Linked DNA regions of Homo sapiens: region 1 is linked to region 2. The links come from fine-mapping of genetic effects on plasma protein levels. Region 2 holds a variant in brackets. A gene starts in the other region. All regions are shown on their forward strands. Region 1 holds the start of KIF22 (kinesin family member 22). Region 2 holds the start of FCN2 (ficolin 2).

The links. A credible set is the group of variants that fine-mapping cannot tell apart. PIP is the chance, under the fine-mapping model, that this variant and not a neighbour inherited with it causes the effect. Protein levels are from antibody-based Olink assays in UK Biobank. Linkage for the fine-mapping came from a reference panel and not from the study's own genotypes, which makes the PIPs less certain.
Region 1: KIF22 starts here. The variant in region 2 is the best candidate, but not a certain one, in a credible set for the plasma level of the KIF22 protein (UK Biobank, PIP 0.71).

Annotation. Positions count from the first base shown.
Region 1 is chr16:29,784,092-29,792,499 of GRCh38, forward strand. KIF22 (kinesin family member 22) reads left to right here and starts at 6,660. Exons shown (of 14, transcript NM_007317.3): 1 at 6,660-6,738. The coding sequence starts at 6,669. It overlaps LOC124903675 (a long non-coding RNA gene), which reads right to left and starts at 1,242. Exons shown (of 2, transcript XR_007065048.1): 1 at 866-1,242. LOC105371167 (a long non-coding RNA gene) reads left to right here and starts at 3,422. Exons shown (of 2, transcript XR_950983.1): 1 at 3,422-3,455; 2 at 3,831-4,032. RefSeq lists a silencer at 195-334 and enhancers at 1,191-1,280, 6,071-6,470.
Region 2 is chr9:134,875,063-134,890,586 of GRCh38, forward strand. FCN2 (ficolin 2) reads left to right here and starts at 5,748. Exons shown (of 8, transcript NM_004108.3): 1 at 5,748-5,859; 2 at 7,464-7,577; 3 at 8,240-8,293; 4 at 9,678-9,710; 5 at 10,177-10,304; 6 at 10,706-10,835; 7 at 11,368-11,502; 8 at 12,106-12,461. The coding sequence starts at 5,760. The coding sequence ends at 12,353. RefSeq lists an enhancer at 14,743-15,243. The variant G/A (reference allele first, on the strand shown) is at 9,146.

The DNA of each region.
Region 1 (8,408 bases), not on the chromosome of region 2:
GGCCAAGGCAGGAGGATCACTTGAACCTTGGAGTTTGAGGTTGCCATGAGCTATGATTGTACCAGTGCACTCCGACCTGGGTGACACAGTGAGACCTTGTCTCTAATAAGAAGAAAAAAATGCCATTTTAAAAGTGTACACTTTCATGGTTTTTAGTATATTCACTGTATTGTACAACCATTACCACTACCTCATTCCAGAACACTTCCACCACCCCCAAAAGAAAGCAGTTACATCTGTTCACTGTAGTGCCAATTACTCAACCCCTTGTCATCCCCTGGCAACCACCACTCAGGTGTACTTTCTATGTCTGTGGGTTTGCTATTGTAATTTGAAAGTTCACTGATGTTACTTTAATTTGGTTTCATTTTGAATACAGTAAATATGGATCAAAACCCATATATACGGAGCATCTTTAGAGGCCTCATTTTTGTTTTTTTTTTTTTTTTTGAGATGGAGTCTTGCACTGTTGCCCAGGCTGGAGTGCAGTGGCGTGATCTCGGCTCACTGCAACATCCACCTCCCAGATTCAAGCGATTCTCCTGCCCCAGCCTCCCCAGTAGCTGGGAATACAGGCGCCTGCCACCACACCCTGCTAATTTTTTTATTTTTAGTAGAGAGGGGTTTTCACTATGTTGGCCAGGCTGGTCTTGAACGCCTGACCTCGTGATGCACCTGCCTCGGCCTCCCAAAGTGCTGGGATTACAGGCGTGAGCCACCACGCCCAGGCTAGAGGCCTCATTTTTTAAGACTAATGGGATCCCAAGGCTAAACGTTTGAGAAACACTGATCTAAGATTTGTGTTTTGTTTTGTTTTGTTGTTCAATCAAGTGGAACATAATGTCTAAACCAGGGCCTTACCTACCTGGAACTCAAAGGTGGAATGACCTTCCCTGGCCAAGCTTCCAGAAGGGACAGGGAGCTACTTAACAGACTGCTGGACCCTTAACGACTGGAAACCGGAACCGTGGGTGACGGAACCGACCAGACGTGACAGCCCTTTGGCTGGGGCTGCAGTCCCACGATCCACACAACGACTCTGGCTCCGCAGACGCGCCAACCACCCACGGAGGCAAGAAACTGCCGAGAGTGAAGGGAAAGGGAGCCCAGTGCTGGGCGGCACTCAGCAGCTCCCCCAGCGGCCACTGTCGCCAACGTCTCCGCGTCGGGGTTTGTACCGCAGCTCGCGTCCAGTCGTCAATGGCTGCGAGGCCCATGCGCGCTCCAGCGTCCTGACCAGGGGAACGTTTTCCTTAGGGACCCGGAGGCGAGCGCTGGAGGGAGGGATGGTTGCTAACGCAACTCTCTGCAGGGCAGACCCACCAGCACCCGCACGCAAACTACGGGCTGGAGCAGTCTAACAGAAACTCTCTCAAAGTCGCTCACGGGTTGCCATTCTAGGTAAGATTTGTGAATAAAACTAATTCTTTAAAAGCCTGAGTTTTTCTTTAGTTGACAGTTTTAATTAACATACTCTTTTCTTTCCTCTTCTGCAGACCCAGCCTCACCATTCCAATGAAGACATCAATTAACCCATGCACAGCCGCTACAAACGGGGAGCTCATTGCCTGCAGGGAAGGACCCTCTACAGAGAGCTACCTGGGGGCTGGGAAGCAGGACCCCAGGCTGAGTCCTGCCTTTTGGTAGTGCCCCGCCCCGGCCAATGCGGCTGTTATATCAAAGTACATAAAAGTGAAGGCAAAGGGTGTCCACGTGGGATAGACTGGCATAGCTTCCTGGCCACCCATGGTGCTCCATTATCTCTTCGAGGACCCCTTCTCCACGAGACCCTCCAGGTCTGGTCCTCTATCGTCCAGCCCCCATTCTCTTCTCCATCACTGCTGCTGTGTCCCAGATGACCTTAATTTAATCTTCACATATTTGAAGGACAGAATCATCGGCCTCACCCACTAATTATTATTATTATTATTTTATTTTATTATTATTATTTTTTGAGACGGAGTCTCGTTCTGTCACCCAGGCTGGAGTGCATCACTGCAAGCTCCGCCTCCCAGGTTCACGCCATTCTCCTGTCTCAGCCTCCCGAGTAGCTGGGACTACAGGCGTCCGCCACCACGCCTGGCTAATTTGTTGTATTTTTAGTAGAGACGGGGTTTCACCGTGTTAGCCAGGATGGTCTCGATCTCCTGACCTCGTGATCTGCCCGCCTCGGCCTCCCAAAGTGCTGGGATTACAGGCATGAGCCACCGCGCCAGGCCTAGACCCACTAATTATCTTTTATGGCACAAACTCTATGTTTTACTTTTGCCCAGGCTGGAATACAATAGCGGCATGATCTCCGCTCACCACAACCTAGCCTCCTGGGCTCAAGTGATCCTCCCACCTCAACTTCCCAAGTAGCTGGGAGTACAGGCATGCGCCACCACACTTGGCTAATTTTAAAATGTTTTGTAGAGAAGGGTCTCACTAGGTTGCCCAGACTGGTCTTGGACTCCTAGACCCAAGCTATCCTCCCACCTTAGCCTCCCAAAGTGCTGGGATTACAGGAATGAGCCACTACATCTGACCTCCTTTGCTTCTTTTAAAGACATAGTTTGGAATTTTTTTTTTTTTTTTTTTTTTTGAGACAGAGTCTCACTCTGTCGCCCAGGCTGGAGTGCAGTGGCGCCATCTCGGCTCACTGCAAGCTCCGCCTCCTGGGTTCACGCCATCCTTCTGCCTCAGCCTCCCGAGTAGCTGGGACTACAGGCGCCCGCCCCACACCTGGCTAATTTTTTGTATTTTTAGTAGAGACGGGGTTTCACCGTGTTAGCCAGGATGGTCTCAATCTCCTGACCTTGTGATCCGCCCATCTCGGCCTCCTAAAGTGCTGGGATTACAGGCGTGAGCCATCGTGAGCAGCCTTTTTTTGAGGAGTCTCCAACTGTCACCCAGGCTGGAGTGCAGTGGTGCCATCTCGGCTCACTGCAAGCTCTGCCTCCCGAGTTAACGCCATTCTCCTGCCTCAGCCTTCCGAGTAGCTGGAACTACAGGCACCCGCCACCACGCCCAGCTAGTTTTTTGTATTTTTAGTAGAGACGGGGTTTCACCGTGTTAGTCAGGATGGCCTCGATCTCCTGACCTCATGATCTGCCTGCCTCAGCCTCCCAAAGTGCTGAGATTACAGGCGTGAGCCACTGCACCCGGCCTGGAAGTTATTTTTTAAAAATCAATTGTTTCTTTCTCTGTCATCCCAGCAGGAGTGCACAGGCATGACCTCAGCTCACTGCAACCTCCACTTCCTGGGTTCAAGCGATCCTCCTGCCTCAGTCTCCCAAGTAGCTGGGACTATAGGCACATGCCACCACATCTGGCTAATTTTTTTTCTTTCAGATGGAGTCTTGCTCTGTCCCTCAGGCTGGAGTGCAGTGGTGCAATCTCAGCTCACTGCAACCTCCAACTCCTGTGTTCAAGTGATTCTCCTGCCTCAGCCTCCTGAATAGCTGGGATTACAGGTGTGTGCCACCACGCCGGGGTAATTTTTGTGTCTTTAGTAGAGACAGGGTTTCCCCATGTTGGCCAGGCTAGTGTCAAACTCCTGACTTCAGGTGATCTGCCCGCCTCAGCCTCCCAAAGTGTTGAGATTACAGGCATGAGCCACCACGCCTGGCCAAACCACCCTAATTTCTACCAGCCAGATGCAGATCCTTAAAACAACCCTAGGAGGTATTTCAACCATTATTCCCTTTTAATATCTGAGGAAATGGAGGCACAAAGAGGCTAAATCTCTGGTCTGGGCAGCCTGGCACCAAGGCCCTGTACCTAAATGGTTTATTCAAACATAGAAGCCCTATCTCCTTGATCTATGCTCTTTTCACTATTTCTGGCAGGTTTCTTACCAAATATCTGGAGTTGACAACAAATGTGAAAACTGAACAGCCTTTTCTGACAGGCAAGGAAGACCAAACTGCCAATTGCCAATGTCAGATGTTCTCAAAGTATGGTCCAGAGACTTCTGGGAGTCCCTGAGACACTTTCAGTGGGTCTACAAGTTCAAAACTATTTTCATAATAAAACTAAGATACCAATTGACTTCTCTTGCATTGTTTCTCAAGTATATAGTGGAGTATTCAAAATACTATATTATATGTGACATCACAACAGCATGAATGCAGAAGCAGATATGAGAATCTAGTTTTTTTGTGTGTCTTTGAGACAAGGTCTCCCTCTGTCACTGAAGCCAGAGTGCAGTGGCACCATCACGGCTCACTGCAGCCTCAAACTCCTGGGCTTAAGCAATCCTCCCACCTCAGCCTCCCAAGTAGCTGGGAATATAGGTGTGTGCCACCATGCCTGGCTAATTTTATTTTTTAAGAGATGGAGGTAGGCCAGGCACAGTGGCTCACGCCTGTAATCCCAGCACTTTGGGAGGCCGAGGCGGGTGGATCACGAGGTCAGGATATCAAGACCATCCTGGCTAACACGGTGAAACCCCGTCTCTACTAAAAATACAAAAAATTAGCCGGGCGTGGTGGCAGGTGCCTGTAGTCCCAGCTACTCGGGAGGCTGAGGCAGAAGAGTGGCGTGAACCCGGGAGGTGGAGCTTGCAGTGAGCCGAGATGGCGCCACTGCACTCCGGCCTGGGCCACAGAGCGAGACTCCGTCTCAAAAAAAAAAAGAGATGGAGGTCTAGGCAGGGCTTGGTAGCTCACGTCTGTAATCCCAGCACTTTGGGAGGCCGAGGCGGATGGATCACCTGAGGTCATGAGTTCAAGACCAGCCTGACCAACATGGAGAAACCCCGTCTCTACTAAAAACACAAAATCAGCCATGCACGGTGGTGCATGCCTGTAATCCCAGCTACTCGGGAGGCTGAGGCAGGAGAATTGCTTGAACCCAGGAGGCGGAGGTTACGGTGAGCTGAGATTGCGCCACTGCACTCCAGCCTGAGCAACAGAGAGAGACTATGTCTCAAAAAAAAAAAGTGCACACCTCTCTGGTTTTTAGTATGTTTATTACGTTACGCAGCCATCATCACTACTTCATTCCAAAATATTTAATATTTCCATCACCCCCAAAAGAAACTCGTTATATCTATTGCTGTAGTGCCAGCTCCTCAGCCCCTCACCATCCCCTGGCAACCACTACTTAGATGTCCTTTTTATGTCTATGGGTTTTTTACTGTAATTTTTAAATTCATTAATGTCAACTTTAATTTAGTTTCACTTCACACACAGTATATACGGCCAGGCCTGGTGGTTCACACCTGTAATCCCAGCACTTTGGGAGGCCAAGGCGGGTGGATCACTTGAGGTCAGGAGTTTGAGACCAGCCTGGCCAACATGGTGAAACCCTGTCTCCATAAAAATACAAAAATTAGCTGAGCGTGGTGGTGCACACCTGTAATCCCAGCTACTCGGGAGGCTGAGGCAGGAGAATCACTTGAACCCAAGAGGCAGAGGTTGGAGTGAACCGAGATTGAGCCACTGCACTCTAGCCTGGGAGATGGAAGTGAAACCCCGTCTCAAAAACAAAAAAACAAAAACCCTCATATACACAAAACATCTTTGGAGGCCTCATTTTTAAAAACTGTAGTGGGATCCCAAGGCAAAACGTTTCAGAAACACTGATCTAAGATTTGTGTTTTTTGTTTTGAGACGGAGTCTCACTCTGGCGCCGTGGCTGGAGTGCGGTGGCACCATCTCGGCTCATTGCAACCTACACCTCCCGGGTTCAAGCGATTCTCCTGCCTCAGCCTCCCGAGTAGCTAGGACTACAGGCGTGCCACCATCCCCGGCTAATTTTTGTGTTTTTAGTAGAGACGGGGTTTCGCCATGTTGGCCAGGCTGGTCTCGAGCTCCTCACCTCAGGTGAGCCTCCCGCCTCAGCCTCCCAAAGTGCTGGGATTACAGGACTGAGCCACCGCGCCCGGCCCGTGTTTTGTTTTGTTGTTCAACAGGGTGGAACATAATGTCTAAACCTGGGCCCTACCTACCTGGTGCTCAAAAGTGGAATGACCGTCCCTAGCCAACCCTTCAGAAAGGACAGAGAGCTACTCAACGGACTGCTGTACTCTTAAGGACTGGGAACCGGAACCGTGGGTGAGTGGGACTGAATCACAGACTAAGCGTTTTCCACGCTTCGCCGACGTGCTGAGTGCCAAGTTATAAAGACAGGAACATCCAAGCTGCTCTCCTGGGCTGACACGGACGCGAGGGGACCTACAGTGGCCTTGGGCCCAGCAGGCAGCGACTGCAACGTGACTGCCCAGAGTCCAGCCCCTGGGGCCCAGATCTACAGAACCGACCAGACGTGATAGCCCTTTGGCTGGGGCTGCAGTCCCACGATCCACACAACGACCCTGGCTCCGCAGACGCGCCAACCACCCACGGAGGCAAGAAACTGCAGAAAGTAAAGGGAAAGGGAGCCCAGTGCCGGGCGGCGCTGAGCAGCTCCCCCAGCGGCCACCGTCGCCAACATCCCTGCGTAGGGGTTTGTATCGCAGCGCGCTTCCAGACATCAACGGCTGCGCGGCCCACGCGCGCGCATGCGTCCTGACCAGGGGAACCTTTTCTTGGGGACCCGGAGGCGAGCGCTGGAAGGCGGGATAGTGGCGACCCACACGCAGCAGCTTCCGGCGGCGCGTAGTCTTGATTGGTGGAACCTGGGAGAGGGGGCGGGGCACCGGGGAATTCGAATGGGAGAGGCGGGCCCAAGGAGGGAGTGGAATGGCCGCGGGCGGCTCGACGCAGCAGAGGCGACGCGAGATGGCGGCAGCTTCAGCGGCGGCGATCTCAGGTACTTGAGCCCGGCCTGGGCAAGGCGGGTACCGACGTCTGGAGTTTAGTGGGAGTTATGTGTCGGAGTGTGGTCCAGGCTCTGCGGGTTGTCGCGGAGAGGCGGCCATGGCGCAGGGGCGGGGAGAGGGGGACGGTGAGAGTGTGGGGTCGCGAGCCGGTCGCCCCGCCTGGCTCCTGCCTTCTCCCTGTTTCCTGCTCTCCCCTTGGGTCAGTAGACTCGGGTCTCCGGTCCAGGCTCTTGGCTTGAACCCCGCGCACTTTTTCTTTGTGAGCTTCGGTTTCTTCGTCTGTGAAACGGGGGTCATGGCCTCATCCCTGGAGATCACCTGAATAAGCAAGAGAAGAGTGGCGGACGCTCTAGCCACGAGGACGAGAAGAAGGGAGCCGGAGGCGTGTATTGGGAAGGGTTCTGTGTGGGACATGGTGTTTGGGTGCAGAGACATCCCTGAGAGATGCAAGAGGACGGGCTGAGGAACAGACCCGGCTGCTGCTGGGTTTGAGTTGGCAGCGTAAGATGCTCTGCGATTACAGGAAAACGAAATAAAAGACTAAAATTTCCTTTCACTCTAGCATGGAAGTGAATGCTATTTTAGGGTTGGAAAGGCTGTTAGGACACCCAAAATCTTGTATGTGAGTATTTGTTTACATGTGCCTCTCTAACCCGGAGACTTAATCCTCGTTAGTGATGATGGTGAGCGCCATAGTAATTCACTGGAGCCCTCGTTAGCCTCGTGGGGAAACAGACATTTAGGAGAATGCCTAACACATGTAGAGCTCTTGCTATGTGCCAGGCACAGTTGTAGGCATTTTATGGTGGTGAACCATTTATTGTCCACACAATGCTATCAGGTTGTTACTATTACTGTCTTTGTTTTACACAGGAAACTGAGGTTAGTTTGTTCAGAGTTAACACAACTAGTAAATATTGGGGCTTGAATTCGCTCTCAAGGAGTCTGAGTGTAGAACCTCTGCTCTTAACCATTATGCCCAAGTACATGTTATCCCTGCTGGCTGAGCACAGTCTCCCCTTACCCTTCGAAGATGCACTGTGTCCGGTGCATGGTAGATATGAAAATGCCTGAATGAATAATGTCCCTTCCTCGAGGAATTTACAGTCTGTTTCAATAGAGTGTCACATACGTAGATGTAATACGAAACACAATGAGAGATGTGTATAAACTGAGGGTGTGGAATCTGAAGTAAGCCCTTGAGTATTCTGGGAGGACTTCATTAAGGGAGTGAATGATACTTGAGATGGGTTTCAAAGGTTGGATAGGAGTTTGCCAGGCCTTGACTAAGAAGACAAGAACAGCAAGTGTTTTCTTATTTATGATGTAAGATGCTCTCTTAGCTCAATTTCCTCATCAATAAAAGGGAGAAGAGTGAATGAAATTTAGGAATTGTGAAAGAAGGGAAAATTAATAATTGCTAGCCTGGTCCAAGCTCAAGGTTGCTTTTATCATGAAAGGGCTAGACTCTTGTGCAGTAAATAATTGTTTACATGTGGCCCTCCCCTCTTCCCTCCTACCCTGGACTGTGAGCCCTGGGGCAGGAATGGCCGTGAGCCATTTTCATGATGGAAATGAACAAGCCAGTGATTAGTAGTTTATTCACTAAATCTTAATTTTTTTCAGCAAATACTTCTTGAGGGCCTACTCTGCGCCAGGT
Region 2 (15,524 bases):
ACTTTGTAGTTCTAGCAGATTTTTCAGATTTGATCAGATTTTCTACAGAATCATGTCATGTGTTAAATAAAAAAAGACAGTTTACTTCTTCCTTTCCTAATATGCATGACTTCTTTTTCTTGCCAGTGACACTGACTAGGACCTCTAGTACCTTGCTGAGTAGAAATGGTGGGAGTGGACACCTTCTCTTGCTCTTGGTTGTTCTAATTGCATTCATTCAGTCTTGTACCATTCAACGTGATGTGAACTGTGGGTTTTTTGTGGATGCCCTTGAGCAAGCTTCCTTCCGTGGTAGACAGGCCCCAGGGTGTTCCCCAGGATCCTTGCACCTCACTGCTCACAGCCATGTCTGGTCCCCACTGGTCCCCACCCCCCTTGAGTGTAGAGAGAATCTATGATTTGCTTCTAACCAAGAGTACAGCAAAGAGGAAGCTGTGTATGTGATTATGTGCACGTGACTATTGCATAAAATGGTAGCTCCCATCTTGCTGGTCTTGTTGCATTCTCTCACTCCCTTGTTGGTTTTGAAGAAGGAAGTGGCCATTTGGGGAACCCCATGGGACAGGAATTGTGGGTAGTCTTTAGGAATAAAGGGCATCTTCCAACCAAAAACCAGCAAGAAAATGTATCCCTCAATTCCTATTAATACAATGACAAGGGTTTGCAGTCTGCCCCTAAACTGAACCAGCTTAAAAACAGACCACTCCCCAGTTGAACCACGGATGAGACTATAGCCCTGTCTGATACCTCAATTGTTGCTTTTGAGACCTTAGCAGAGAACCCCAATAAACTGTGCATGGACTCCTGACCCACAAAAACTATAAGATAATAAACAGGTGCTATTTTAAGCTGCTAAGATGTGGTAATTTGTTACACAATGATAGAAAAGGAATACTTTTTATTCTTCATTTTTGGAGAGCCTTTTTCATCTGGAATGGATGAAAATGTTCAAATCTTTTTCTGTTTCTTTTGAGATGATAGTATATCATTTTTAATTTGGTAAGCTAGAGAATTACATTGATTTTTAAGAGGTAAACAAACATTCTATTCCTGGGCTAAACCTCACTTGCTCATGATACATTATTTTCATAGACAGGTTCAGTTTGCTAAAATTTTGCTTAAAATTGTGGTATCTATGTTCATGAGGGCTATCAGTCTATAGTTATTTTTTTCTTGCAATGATTTTTATCTACTTTTGCTATTGGGGAAATGCTGGCCTCATAGAATGAATGATAAAGTAGTTGTAACTTTCTGATTTTCAGAAGGAATGTGGGAAGAATTGCTATTATTTCTTCCTTAAATGTTTGGTAGATTTCATCAGTGACGCTGTCTGGGCCTGGAGATTTTTTTGCTGGGCTCTCTATTCTGTAGACTCTCTATTTCTTCATGGGCTCTCTTGTCTGTTCCATTGGTCTATATGTCTACCTTCACATCAGTACCACATTATCCTGATAAACTTCTTTATAATAAAAATAAAGGCTTAACTACAATTTCAATTTATTTTATATGTATAGTTTTGTTTTGTTTTGTTTTGAGGTGGAGTTTCCCTCTTGTCACCCAGGCTGGAGTGCAATGGCACGATCTTGGCTCACTGCAACCTCTGCCTCCTGGGTTCAAGCAATTCTCCTGCCTCAGCCTCCCGAGAAGCTGAGATTACAGGTGCCTACCACCACACCAGCTAATTTTTGTATTTTTAGTAGAGAAGGGGTTTTGCCACGTTGGCCAGGCTGGTCTCGAACTGACTTCAGGTGATCTACCCACCTCGACCTCCCAAAGTGCTGGGATTACAGGCGTAAGCCACCACGCCAGTTGTTTGACTTAGGTATTTCTTGAGTGACTTTGGTGGTTCAAAGAAATTGTCCATTTCATTTCCACTGTTGAATATGTTGGTGCTAAAGTGTCTTAATATCTCCTTATATTCCTCATAATATCTGTAGAATATGTAGTGAGGTCATTGATCTCTTCCTAATAGTGATATTTTGCATTCTCCCTCTTTTTTCTCTTTTCTTCAGTCTGACTAGAGGTTTATAAATTTGATTTACCTTCTCAAAGAATCAGCTTCAGGTTGTATTGATTTTCTGCACTTGTTCATTATTATTCATTCTCTTTTTTCTACTTTGGATTTAATTTACTCTTGTTTTTCTAGTTTCTTGAGACGGAAGCAGAGGCTGTTGACCTGAGACCTTTCTTCCTTTTTAGTGAACATTTCACACTGTAATTTGCCTCCCAAGGAGTGCTTTAGGAACACCATGCAAACTGTATTTTACTGCCTTTTTGTTTTCATTCAATTCAAAATTCTTTCTAATTTCTCCTTTGGCCTCTTCTATTTCCTATATCTTATTTAGAAGAATGTTATTTAGTATCCAAATATTTGGGAGGATTTTCTAGACACCTTTCTTTTCTTGATTTCTAATTAATTCCATTGTTGTCCGAGAACATACTTTGTATGGCTTGAATCTGTAGAAGGTTGTTATTTTAGTGGCCACGTTAGAATTTGTAGTAAATCTCTTCCATGATCACAGTTTACCTTCCGGCAACATGAAGCCACTGCTGTCTGCTACAAGAGTCTCATGGCCGTGTTCTCCATTTCTCTCCTCCTGGCCTTTGTGAGATGGTGGTCATGTTAGAGACCTCACAGATGGGATCCATGCCTGCCTGGTCTGTCTCCTGTGTACAGCATCACCTGTCCTAGAACAGCCGGCACCCTGAGGGTGGAGACCTGGGCTGAGGCACAGAGGTAGCTTGTGTGGGAGGGAAACTTCTGGAAGGGGGATGTGATGGTTAATACTGAGTGTCAACTTGATTGGATTGAAGGATGCTAAGTATTGATCCTGGGTGTTTCTGAGAGGATGCTGCCAAAGGAGATGAACATTTGAGTCAGTGGGCTGGGGAAGGCAGACCCACCCTCAGTCTGGTGGGCACCATCTCATCAGCTGTCAGTGAATAAAAAGCAGGCAGAAAAATGTGAAAAAGCGAGATGGGCCTAGCCTCCCAGCCTACATCTTTCTCCTGTGCTGGATCCTTCCTGCCCTCGAACATCAGACTCCGAGTTCTTCAGTTTTGAGACTCAGATTGGGTCTCCTTGCTCCTCAGCTTGCACACAGCCTATTGTGATCCTGTAAGTTAATACTTAATAAACTCCCCTTTATATATGCCTATCCTATTAGTTCTGTCCCTGATTAATACAGGGGGGTAGAAAAGGCCCTAGTTGGGACCCGAGGAACTAGGGCTGGAAGCCAGCTCAGCCATGAACTGGCCATGTGCCTTGCGGGAACTTCTGCCCTTCTCTGAGCCTCAGCCTCCTTGCCCGTAACAAGTGACGTGACCCCTGGAAGCACCCCTGACCAACATTTACACTGGTGCCTGTGAGGGCTTTGGTTTTTGTGTGTTATCATCTGTGGGCAATTTTGAGTTCACCAAAGACTTTTCAGGTCTTCCTTTGCTTTCTAAAACGAATTCAAATTTAATTATGTCCATTTATTAAAAATCTTACTTTAGGGCCTGGCGCGGTGGCTCACACCTGTAATCCCAACACTTAGGGAGGCCAAGGTGGGTGGATCACCTGAGGTCGGGAGTTCGAGACCAGCCTGACCAACATGGGGAAACCCCATCTCTACTAAAAATACAAAAAGTAGCCGGACATGGTAGTGCCTGCCTGTAATTCCAGCTACTCGGGAGGCTGAGGCAGGAGAATCGCTTGAACCCAGGAGGCGGAGGTTGTGGTGAGCCAAGATTGTGCCATTACACTCCAGCCCGGGCAACAAGAGCGAAACTCCGTCTCAAAAAAAAAAGTGTACTTTAAAAGCTGCATTCTGCCTTCATTTTAAAAGTGTGACTTATAAACCTTATTATTCTATCTTTTAATAACCACCTATAAGGAGCCTGTGAATAATTCTTGGTCCATTCCTTAACTTAGCCAACTAAACACCTTCAAACATTGTTACTGCATTTATACATTTAATAGAACCACATTTATCCTTTAGTACCTTGTCTAACTTTAAAAAATCCTTCTGAATATGAACTGCTAGAAATGTAATCATTTAAATTCAGCATGTGATAAACTCAGAGTTCCAATAAAGTGATTCAATAGTTTATATGAATTCGGTAAGTTTTCCGCATAAATGCACTCTGCCAAATCAATTACTCAATTGGCCATTTTCTGTTGAAGTTATCCTGCACCCACTCCAATAGGCCAGATTCTCTTGATTATTGCAAGTACTTTAAATAGCATATTTTTTTAGATTTCTGAACACTAAAATATTAATATAATGTCTTTGGGCTTTTAAAGCCTTCTAGACTTAATTTTAAGTCATCTAGGTTTGAAAGATGCTTCTATTAGGAAGGACAAATAGCATGCAGTAAAGGAACCTGCCTAAGGACTCGGAATTTTGGCTGCTGGGGTTTCACTGGGCAGCTCTGGGGACCTGGCTCCTCTGCAGGTGACTTCAGGACTTTGAGGAAGATGCCCCCAAGCCATCTTTCTAGGTTCCATATCTGCATCTCCATGGAGCCTGTGTCTTCCCCAGGTTCATCCCTGGACCTCATCTGCATCTGGCATAGCCTTAATTAAGTCTTGAGAGGTCTGCCCTAAACACCACGGAACCCGAGGGGGGTCTTAACTAGTCATAGTCTCAGGACCACACATCTCCATGGGCATTGAAGGAAAATCCGATGGGATTTTGTTTCTCGCGTGGCTTTGCTGGGCTGGGGTCACAGTTTAAAATCCTTCTACTGATCTTGCCAAGGAAGAAGGCACCTCGGCATCCCGATGGCAGCAGGTGGCAGGGTGCGGTGGTGGTAGTGGGAGGTGCAGTGCTGGTTCCGTCTCTGGGGGCTTTAGGTATACGGCCTCTGGGGCCCCACCTGCTACTGTCTCTGTCTCTAACCTGGCTCAGTCCAAGGCGAGAGTGCACCTTCAGGCCAGCTCTTCTCCAAAAGGCGAACACAACCACTGAAGTAAGTCCACAGCCATCCTACAGGTGGGATGTCTGGCCTCAGGGCTCAGGGGGTTCCCTGGGCCCTAGGAGTGAAATTCACCTACTCTCATCCTCCCTACAGGCTAAGCCCCTGCATTCACACTCAAGGTCTCCCCTTCAGATGTGTACCTGGGTCATAGTCCCCCAGGCTCCCCACTCTTCTCTCCTTTCCCTCCTGTTCATGTGCCCCTGTGCTCTACATACTGCCCCAGGAAACAGTGGACACACACGCATTTTCCTCTCCTTTTCACCCTGGCAGCCTGCCTGGACCTCATAGTGGCAGTTTCCAAGCCTCCTGAGGAGAGTCCCAAGTCTGCTCATGATGTGGTGAGGGTTACTGTGTAAGGCCCACACCAGTGGCCCATGACCAGCCCTGGCCATGAGGACTCTAGGTATTCGGATAAGGGAGAGAGACCTCTTTGAAGCAGAACATCTTTAGCAAACCCTTCCTTGTTCCCCGTTCTCAGCTCATGGTGACATCTGCTCACCGCTGAACAAAGGTGGGAGGATGGGCCTGGGCTCTTTGCCCAAGGCCACAAGCAAGTCAGCCTGTTCCCTGGAAGGAGACCGTCCCCCTGCAGGGATGACAGTCGCCATGGGATCCCCAAGGGGCGGGGGGTAGGGAGCAGCCCTGGAGATGATCTCGCACCTCCTGCTGGCGTCACCAAGCCCGCGGAGAGGAAGCGGCTGTCACTCGGAAGATGAGAAATTGGAGTCTGAGGGAGGCTGGCTTCTCTAGCCCTATAAGAGGGCAGGCACCTTTTGAAGCAAAGACCAGAAGAGATGGAGCTGGACAGAGCTGTGGGGGTCCTGGGCGCTGCCACCCTGCTGCTCTCTTTCCTGGGCATGGCCTGGGCTCTCCAGGCGGCAGACACCTGTCCAGGTAAGGGCACTCCAGGGCCTCCTCCTGGAAACTTCTCGTCCCTGAAAGCTGGCAGCTTCGTGATTGGTGGCTTCCTGGCTTCCAGGCCTTGCACCAGGCCGTGTGGAGCATCGTCTAACGAGACAGCAGCTCTGCATGCCTCATCTTATGTGAACAAACGCAGAGGCCCCGAATGGATGTGGCATCTCAGAGACGGAGCTTCCTCTGCTTGCCCTCCCATAATGGAAACCGAGGCAGGTTTCCAGTCTCCCTGGGCCACATGTCCCCCTCTAAGCGTAAAAAGCGTAGTCATGGTGTTGTGTGGGGAGGTGAGGCTTGTGGTGCCAGCTGGGTAGACACCAGTCAGATATTCTGCCATGGTCGCCATCACAGAGAGACAGGGTGTGAGGTGGGGATAAGCACCCGGAAAGACAGGGTGTCAGGCGGGGATGAGCACTGCAGGACCTTTCCATCCAGGACCTGCTGGGCTCTGGAGATGGCAGTTCCCATGGTGTCCCTGATGCGGCACAATAAGGGTGGCATTGTCCCCGTGAGTTCTGGACCTCCTTCGGGGCTCCCGAGGGGACACTCGGGTGCCAAACCATGGGCTCCGGCGCATGCGAGGGCAGGTTGAAAATGCAGGTTCTGGAGTCAGGTCCTGACTCCGTCTACCCGGGGCTGGGATGCAGGGTCAGGAATTTGTGATGCTCCTGATGCTTGCAGAGATTCGTGTCAGGATTTCTGGAATGCATGTGAGACACAGAGCTCTGCGGTGTGCTGTGACTAGCATCGCATTCAAGGAGCAATCCGTGGCGTGAAGTGTGACACAGGCCAGGAACAGCGGGGATTCGCTTGGAAACTCCTAGTGGCTCGTTGTGGAGTGGTGGGGTTAGGGTGGCATTATTTTCTTCCTTAAATACTTCTAGAGTTTCTAAATGATCAAATAATAGCACGTGTTATTTTTGTAACACACTCACTTGAATTTGAGTTATCTAATTAAAAACAACAAGCTGCATTCCAGCTCTAGTTTCGCACCAACTTGTTCAGTGTCCTTGAAGGACGCCTCCCTCTGTGGAGGAACAAGGTGGACCCACAGGAGCCCATCCACTCTCAGATCTGCTCCAAGATCAGGCGTGGGAGTTGCAATGGTAGCCTCTCTCCCTGTGTCCTTCTCACCCGATATTGATTACAATGATATGATAGATGAGAACAGACGAGATTAGGATGCTGTCTTAAATGGTAGGAGCTGAAATGAACCTGCACCCCTCGGTAGGTAAGGGAACAGAGGCTCAGAGGGGTTAAGGGACTTGTTTCAGGACACACAGTACTGAGGAAGTAAGGTTTGCCTTCAGGCAGGGTAGCCTCCAAGGCCAGGGTTCTGCCCCAAATCACCTTTCTGCCTGACCAGTGCCCAAGAGGTGAGGACAGACCAAGTGCCCACCAGGGCAGGAAAACCTCCCTTCCAGGTGACCCTCCAGCTGAGGGAGGTGGCTGTGGCTATAGCCATCTGCCCAGTCCTGATGTCACCAAGATGGCAGATGCCTTTCAGTTGAGTGGTATATCTATGGCTCAGTGGAGTCTTCAGGCCCAGGTGACACTGAGTGGCCACCTGTGTTTTTCTGCAGAGGTGAAGATGGTGGGCCTGGAGGGCTCTGACAAGCTCACCATTCTCCGAGGCTGTCCGGGGCTGCCTGGGGCCCCTGGGCCCAAGGGAGAGGCAGGCACCAATGGAAAGAGAGGTAGGTGCAGGCATGGCTGGGGGCACTGGCTCTTGCTCTTTTTGAAACCAGATGCTGAGTTGGGCAACACCCCCACCATGGTTCCTAGATCGAGAGCTGGGTCAGGCCCCTGCAAGAGCCAGGAAAAGAACTGACTCCCAGGGCCCAACAGGGTTCTGACATGGAGGGAGCGTCTTTCTTAGCTATTTCATGAGCTCACATTTGGACATGCTTCTGTAGCTCTGTCTCCTAGTCCTTGATCCAATACCAGCTTTGCTCGGCCGCTGGCACGACTTCAAGCTCTGTGTCCCTCCACCTTCCCACCTCAACACGGAGGCCATGACACTCTTCTCCACCTGTCTCAGATGAGGAAACTGAGGCTCAGAGAGTCCAGGGATTTCGCTCTGTTCTCACACTTGGAAGGAAAAGAGCCGAGATTCTACCCATGGTCTCTGGATTTCCAGCTCCCGGCCCCTGAGTGAACAGGAGAGCCCCGTGAGGCCTGGGTCCTGGATCTAGAACCTTCTGGTGCAGGATGGGCAAGCCTGGGCGGGGCCACAGTCACGTCGTAGCACGAGCAGGGTCATGGTCATGATTGGAAATGACAGCCGCCAGCTCCAGGGTGGGCCCTTTGATCCTGGGCTGGGCAGTTTTCCTCAAGTCAGTGTCTTTGGAAATTGCAGGAGAACGTGGCCCCCCTGGACCTCCTGGGAAGGCAGGACCACCTGGGCCCAACGGTAAGGAGGGGACAAGAGTGAGAAGCGGCTTCAAGGCCCTTCCAGACCTGGCTGCAGAGGAACGTGAGGCGGGTCTTCTGGGGCTGCCACGCTGTCCTCGCCAGAGCCAACGCCTGCCCAGGCAGGGCTCTTGGGGCTTAGTCCAGGGCAGGGGTCTCAGTGTGGGGGAAGGGGTCTCAATGTGTGTGTGGGTTCTCAGTCTGGGGGAGTGGGGTTATCAGTGTGGGAGCTGGTCTCAATGTGTGTAGGGGGTCTCAGTTTGGGGGAGTGGGGTCATCAGTGTGGGGGCAGGGTTCTCAATGTCGGAGGAGGGGTTCTTGGTGGTGTAGGGAGAGGTTCTTGGGGTGTGTGTTGGGGGAGGGGTTCCCGGTGGGCAGGCTGTGGGGAGGTGTTATCAGCAGGGAGGGAGGAGCTGTCAATATGGGGGAGAGATTCTGGGATGGGGGAGAGGTTCTGATTATTCGGGGAGGGACTTTTAGTGTGGGGAGGGGTTCTTAGTGGGGGGGCTGTCTGTATGGGGGGGTTCTCAGGTAGGGGAAGGTTTTCAGTGCAGGAGCATCTGCCCTGTGGGTGGGCCTGAGACCAAATCCTGTCCCTCTAATGTGGAAGTGGTCTTGAGAGGGTGGGGGGGGATTGTCTGCCCACCTCTCTAAGCCTCACTCAGTCCTGGCCTCTGTCCCCTGAGCATGAGGCCCTGTCTTGTCCCCTCCTCCTGACTCTGCTTGAAAACCAGGATCAGCCCCGGATGGCTTGGAGAACCATGCCAACAAGTTCCAAACACAGAATTAGTGGAAATTCTCTGCTTTAAAACAAAGAATTTTCTGATATATTTTCTTGAGGAATAAATTTTGA[G/A]GAATCGGAGAAATACGCAGTAGGAAATTGAAGCTCCCTTTACTCACTCACCTTTACCCACAGACCTACTCAGAATAAGACCACCCTACACTCACCAAACCCCAGGCTCAGTCATGGGTTGTGTCTAAACATAAAATACGCAGGTTTGGTGCCCACACCGCAAACAACACTCCCCACATCATATTACTGTGTCCACCAAGATGGGCTGTTTGCAGGCCTTGGGGCCTCAGGAGAAGCCTGAAGATCCAGGCTTCCTTTAGTTGGCATGTGGAGGCCTCAGCAGTCTCTGGGATGGTGGCCTCTGCTTCCCCAGGAACCTCTGAAAGGGGTGCATGTGGTGGAGGGGCCAGTGTAGGCATCCCTCGAGGGAAAGAAAAATTTGGTCAACAGAACCAGGGTCAGGGACTCCTTGGCTGGACCCATACCATCACCTCCTGGGGAGGCCCAGAAAATGGTGTCCGCGGACCAATGGGGGCTGAAGGGCTCTGATTTCCAAACTGTGACACGTGTGTCCTCTCTCATCCATGAACAGGAGCACCTGGGGAGCCCCAGCCGTGCCTGACAGGTGACTGACCACCCCCACACTCCTCCCACGGCTTGTGGCTGCCCTTGGCTGGAAGTCCAGGGTCATACGACGCCATTGCCAGAATGAAGTGACAAATATGAACAGAAGAAAATGGTTGCTTGCCCGTTTCCTTGTCCCCTAATTATTCAAGGAAGTGACAAATATTGTCCAGACAACTTACATACACTCCATGGCAATTTTTTTCTATTTATAATCTACGCCAGAAGGCCGGGTGCCCAGGAGCTGAAGGTGGGGGTGACACTGGGAGGTGGGAGGGCCAGGCCAACTGGCTGCGGCCATCACAGCTGCGTGGCCCTGGGGGCCGTGTCCCTGTCCAGGCCTCAGAGTCCCGCTCTGTTCATACAGACGCCTATGGCCCTGCTTCTTCCTCCCAGGCCTCCCTCCTACTGCCTGTGCCCTGCCCAGGGCTCCTGTCCTGCAGCCATTCCCCGGGTTCCCTTCCCAGGCCCGCGTACCTGCAAGGACCTGCTAGACCGAGGGCACTTCCTGAGCGGCTGGCACACCATCTACCTGCCCGACTGCCGGCCCCTGACTGTGCTCTGTGACATGGACACGGACGGAGGGGGCTGGACCGTGAGTGTGGGGCTGGGCAGAGGCGGTCAGCCTGGGAGTCCCGGAGGCCAGGCTGCACACCTGGTGGGAGAACACACTCTGGAATTCTCTATTCTCCTGGTCGGGGACAGTCAGAGATGATGGGGGAGATGACCGGTGGGTAAAAGTCCAGGCCTTTGGGGGAGGCTGGGAGAGGTTGGGTGCTCTCCTGCTGTGTGGCTTGGGGCTTGTTGCCTCCCCTCTCTGAGCCCCCATTTCCTCCTTCATCCTGTGGAGTCTGTGAGGAGAACAGGTGGGCGTGCTGGTGACCCCGCCTGTGATGCTCTGCCAACTACAAATGCTGCTCCTCTGGAGGGCGGGTCCCCCGTGCTGTGGGACGTCGGCCTGGCCCCCCCGGCTCCTGTCCCCTGGCTTCTCCACAGGTTTTCCAGCGGAGGGTGGATGGCTCTGTGGACTTCTACCGGGACTGGGCCACGTACAAGCAGGGCTTCGGCAGTCGGCTGGGGGAGTTCTGGCTGGGGAATGACAACATCCACGCCCTGACCGCCCAGGGTAGGGCCGCTGCTGGGGCTTGGGGGTCGGGGGCCCTGAATGGGGGTGCCCCTGCCTCTTGGGCCTGGGCTGCCTGGAACACAAGAGCCTCTTGGCCCACAGGGGATTGGGCCCTGAGCACACTCAGGGTGGCACTGGGACCTCCGAGGGCTTCGTCCCTGCTGCAGGCTCTGGCAGCATCGGGACGGGAGAGGGTCAGAGCTCTGGGATGAAGGCCTCTTCAGGTCTTGGCCCCACTGGCATCTCAGGTCCTGAGAGGGGAAGGAGGGACACAGTGGCCCCATAGTGGAGTTTGGGCCCAACCCCAACTCTGCCTCTAATCCGCTAGGATTTGGGAGTCAAGAGTCTTGCCCTGCTGCTCAGCACACCCTGCCGGGTCAGAGCTACACAGGCCCCGGGGATGCTGCGGTGCTCTCCGCCCTCTGCCTCCATGGAGTCCAGACCTCCTTCCAGGCCCTGCCCCAGATCCCCAGCTCCCATGTCTAAAGGTAGAGAGCCCTTCCGCTGAGACCCTGAAACCTTTCTCTAACAGGAACCAGCGAGCTCCGTGTAGACCTGGTGGACTTTGAGGACAACTACCAGTTTGCTAAGTACAGATCATTCAAGGTGGCCGACGAGGCGGAGAAGTACAATCTGGTCCTGGGGGCCTTCGTGGAGGGCAGTGCGGGTGAGTGTCTGCTTGGGGCTGTGTGGCCTGGGCTTCTGAGGGGGGTTTGGGAAGTGGAGAGAGCGTGCTCAGTGTCCTGGTAGCCTTGTGGAAGAGGCCTCACCTCTCTGAGCCAATTCGTCCATCTCTACATGCAGACACTAACATCTGTGCTCTGTGTAGCATGGGGGTCATGGGACACATCAGTGTATGACTGCAGAAATCCCAGCAAGGGCATCTGGTAGGAAGGAAGTCTCTGCAGAGCAGGGACCTATGCACGGTGACAGCAGCTGATATCTCTGCGGGGCATGGCTGGAAGGGGTCTGCCATGATGGAATCCAGAGTAGAGAATGATGATCCTGACCCCTGCCTCCTGTTCTTCTGTGAAATAAACATAGTACACATTAGGTGGCAGGGCTAGACCTAAAGACAATTTGCCAAGACCACTGCCAACAGCAGGGCAGTATTCACTGGAGTCATGGATTGCACTTCTTGGATTGTGCAGTGCACAACCTGCCTAACCATACATGGAGGACACACCAGGCCAGGCCTCAGGTATAAAGACTTATACTGTCTGTAATGATGTTACTGCCTGTAACGATGCTCACATTTCCTCCTGCACAGGAGATTCCCTGACGTTCCACAACAACCAGTCCTTCTCCACCAAAGACCAGGACAATGATCTTAACACCGGAAATTGTGCTGTGATGTTTCAGGGAGCTTGGTGGTACAAAAACTGCCATGTGTCAAACCTGAATGGTCGCTACCTCAGGGGGACTCATGGCAGCTTTGCAAATGGCATCAACTGGAAGTCGGGGAAAGGATACAATTATAGCTACAAGGTGTCAGAGATGAAGGTGCGACCTGCCTAGCCCAGGCCGGCCTCAGGGTCAGGACGCCTCCACACATAGTTGGTTGGGGGGTAGGGTTGGGAGCTTGGCCCTACGGTTTGTAAAAGAAACACATGTCGTGATTCTAAATTGGGTTTGTCTTGCTGTGCGGAAGAGGTTCAAATCCAGCTCTGTTTCCGCAATCAACCCTTTCAGATTTGTGACATTAACTCACCTCAAACCTCTGTCTTTCCTTGACAATGAGTAAGAATGTGTTCCTGACCATGCCAGCAGGAACCTTCCTTAAGGACAAATACAAGACTTTGAAGCTGCGATGGGCTCAGAGTGCAGCCCTGCTCAGGTCCCTGGGCAGGCTAAACGCCTTCCTGGGGCTCGACCATCTGGGCTTCTCTGTGAGCTGGATGGCAGGGAAGTCAGAAGGCACATTGGAGAGGAAGTTTCTCTTGCACTCAGAGATGCCGTTGCCTGTCCAAGGCCCCCAGCCTCGTAGCCGCAGCTCTGCTCACTCTCCCCCGTCACCCAGGCTTCCTGCCGCCTGCTGTCCTGGGTATTCGTGGGATCTGCTCGCTACTTCCTCACAAGCCGAAGCAAGAGTGGCAGTGTGCCTGTGACTCCCTCATCAAAACGGAGAGAGTGGTTACATGAGGCAGGTGTGAGGGACCCGAGCACTCCTGAGGAGGGAAGAACACTCCTCTTGGCCATGAGTGTCCATCCCAAAGCTGCCCTGCAGCCTAGCCCAGTGCAGATTGAATCAGAAAGCCAAAGCCCCTTCCACCCGCTTCTCTCAGGCAAGCTGCCTGCAAGAGAGAAAAGTGTATTAGTGCAGGAGCTTGTGTCTGCTGAGGATGGCACCTGGCCCTCTCCTCTCACCACGTCCGGGTCCTCCTGAGGACCGGTCCCCTGTCCCCGGTCCCCAGCCAGCTCAGCCTGACCAGGCTTTTAGAGGCTCCGCACCCCAGCATCGGCCAGTGCTGACCCTTGTACGGCTGTTTGGGTCCCCGATCACTCTCATAACAGCCCTGCCCTTGTCCTATACCCTCTACTCAGAGAGGATCCAGAAGGGTCCAAGGAGGCCATGATCCCTCCCTGAGCTTTTTCACGCGGGCCCCCTCCTTCCCCTACGAGGGTCCGTCCTGGGTCTTAGCTGGTCTAAGCCCTACACAAGTCATGGAGAGGGCTGTGTGTCTGGGACTTCTCGGGGGAGAGTGCACTGTTTCCTCTGAGTTCCTGGAGGGGGTGCGCCATGAAGATCAGGACACAGCCATCTTCACCTTCCCTCCTCACTCTGGGTCCGAGGCCTGGGATGAGCCAGGACAGCGGGAAGCAGGGATGGCCCTGGGCGTGGCACTTCCTTCCTTCCTGGGCCCGCAGGAGGGGGCCACACCACCCACCCAGGGGGCTGACCCGTCCTCAGGACAGAAACTAGCAAGCTGTCAAACCTGAGGGTTTATAACTAAATGACGGGGTGCTGCCCCTGGAAATTACACCCAGACATCTCTTTTCTCGTAGACCTGGGTCCCTAGCTTTTAGACAGGATGACAAATCACTGACAGGTGCTGACTTTACATGCACTGTGGCCTCACGCTTCAGCCATTCACTGCCAGGCAGTCTTCTAGGGCAGCAAAGAGCTCAGCCACACAGCCCGGGCCACTGTCAGGATGAGACCTGGCGTCAGACCTCCTCTCAGCGCCGCTTACCCCCCATTCTGGGCATTTCAATCTCCAACAGGAGATTTAAATGAAGAAAACACGCACCTCACACAGCTGTAAAGGGAGGAACTGGGAATTTCTCCCAAATCTTGACCCTTGAGTTCTAGAAATGGGGTTCTCCCTGGAATGCATGATGGCATTATTCTGGAAGGCAAAAATAAAGCTATTTAATATAGAAATGTTTTTAGCCTGACAAGCCAGAGATTTTTAAAAATATTGTTTTTTTAAATTTTCTTAATTGAGAGATGAGCTAAAAAGTAACTTTTTCTAAATATTTAATGTAGCTTTGCTATACTTTATAAATACTGTCAAGCTTTGGGGGGGTTTGTTGGGATAAGAAAATGTACTTATAAAAATGCAGTCAGTATGTCAGGAGGCTGGCGTAATTAACACAGCACAGGGAGGTCATGGAGGCTTGTGTAATTAACCTAACATAACATAAATGTATTTGCATGACACGTGCATCGCATGTGCATACGTGTGTGTGTGTGTGCACCTGCGGGGCCTCTGGGAGGTGTAACTGAGGCAGGCATCGGAAGGGCTCTGTAGGACCAGCTGGTACTGGGTGGGCACCTGGGAGCCACAGGTGCCTGCTTCTCCCATCCCCTGAAAGACTTGGCTCCTTCAGGCCACCAGTGCTGCCTCAGGGTGTCTGGCTCCCCTCCAGAGCAGGGGGCTGAGCCAGGTTGGAGCCTAGGCCAAGGCCAAGAGTGTCCCCAGGGCTGGGCTGTCCCTGTCCCTCTGCTGGGGACCGCTGCCTCCCTTCCTGCTCTTCAGAGGTCTCAGGCCTCTGCTGTCGGGAGGGCTGGAAGAAGGGGCAGCAGCTGGCAGGGGGCCTGTGCCCACTAGACCCTAGATTCTTAACTGTAACTGTGGTTTCTGTGGCCAGGCTGGGGGTGACAGAGGCATTCAAGCCAGACTCCATCTTGAATAGGGGCTGGGTGAAATGAGGCTGAGGCCTGCTGTGCTGCAGTCCCAGGAGGTTAGGCATTCTTAGTCATAGGAGGTTGGCAGGACGGGTATCACAAAATACAGGTCAGGATGCGGTAAAGAAGACGGCCAAATCCCACCAAAACCAAGACAGTGACAAAAGTGACTTCTGGTCGTCCTCACTGCTCACTATATGCTAATTATAATGCGTTAGCATGTTGAAGGACACTCCCACGACAGTTTGCAAACACCATGGCAACTTCCGGAACTTACTATGTATGGTCTAAAAAAGGGAGGGACCCTCAGTTCCCTGCCCCTTTCTTGGAAAACTCATGAAAGATCCACCCCTTGTTTAGTATGTAATCAAGAAATAAGTATAAAAATAGCCAGTTAGCAGTCCTCAGAGCTTCTCTGCCTATGGAGTAGTCATTCTTTTGTTTCTTTACTTCTTTAATAAAGTGGCTTTTACTTTATGAACTCGCCCCAAATGCTTTCTTGTGAGAGGTCCAAGAACCCTCTCTTGGGGTCTGGATAAGGATGCTTATTTTCCCCA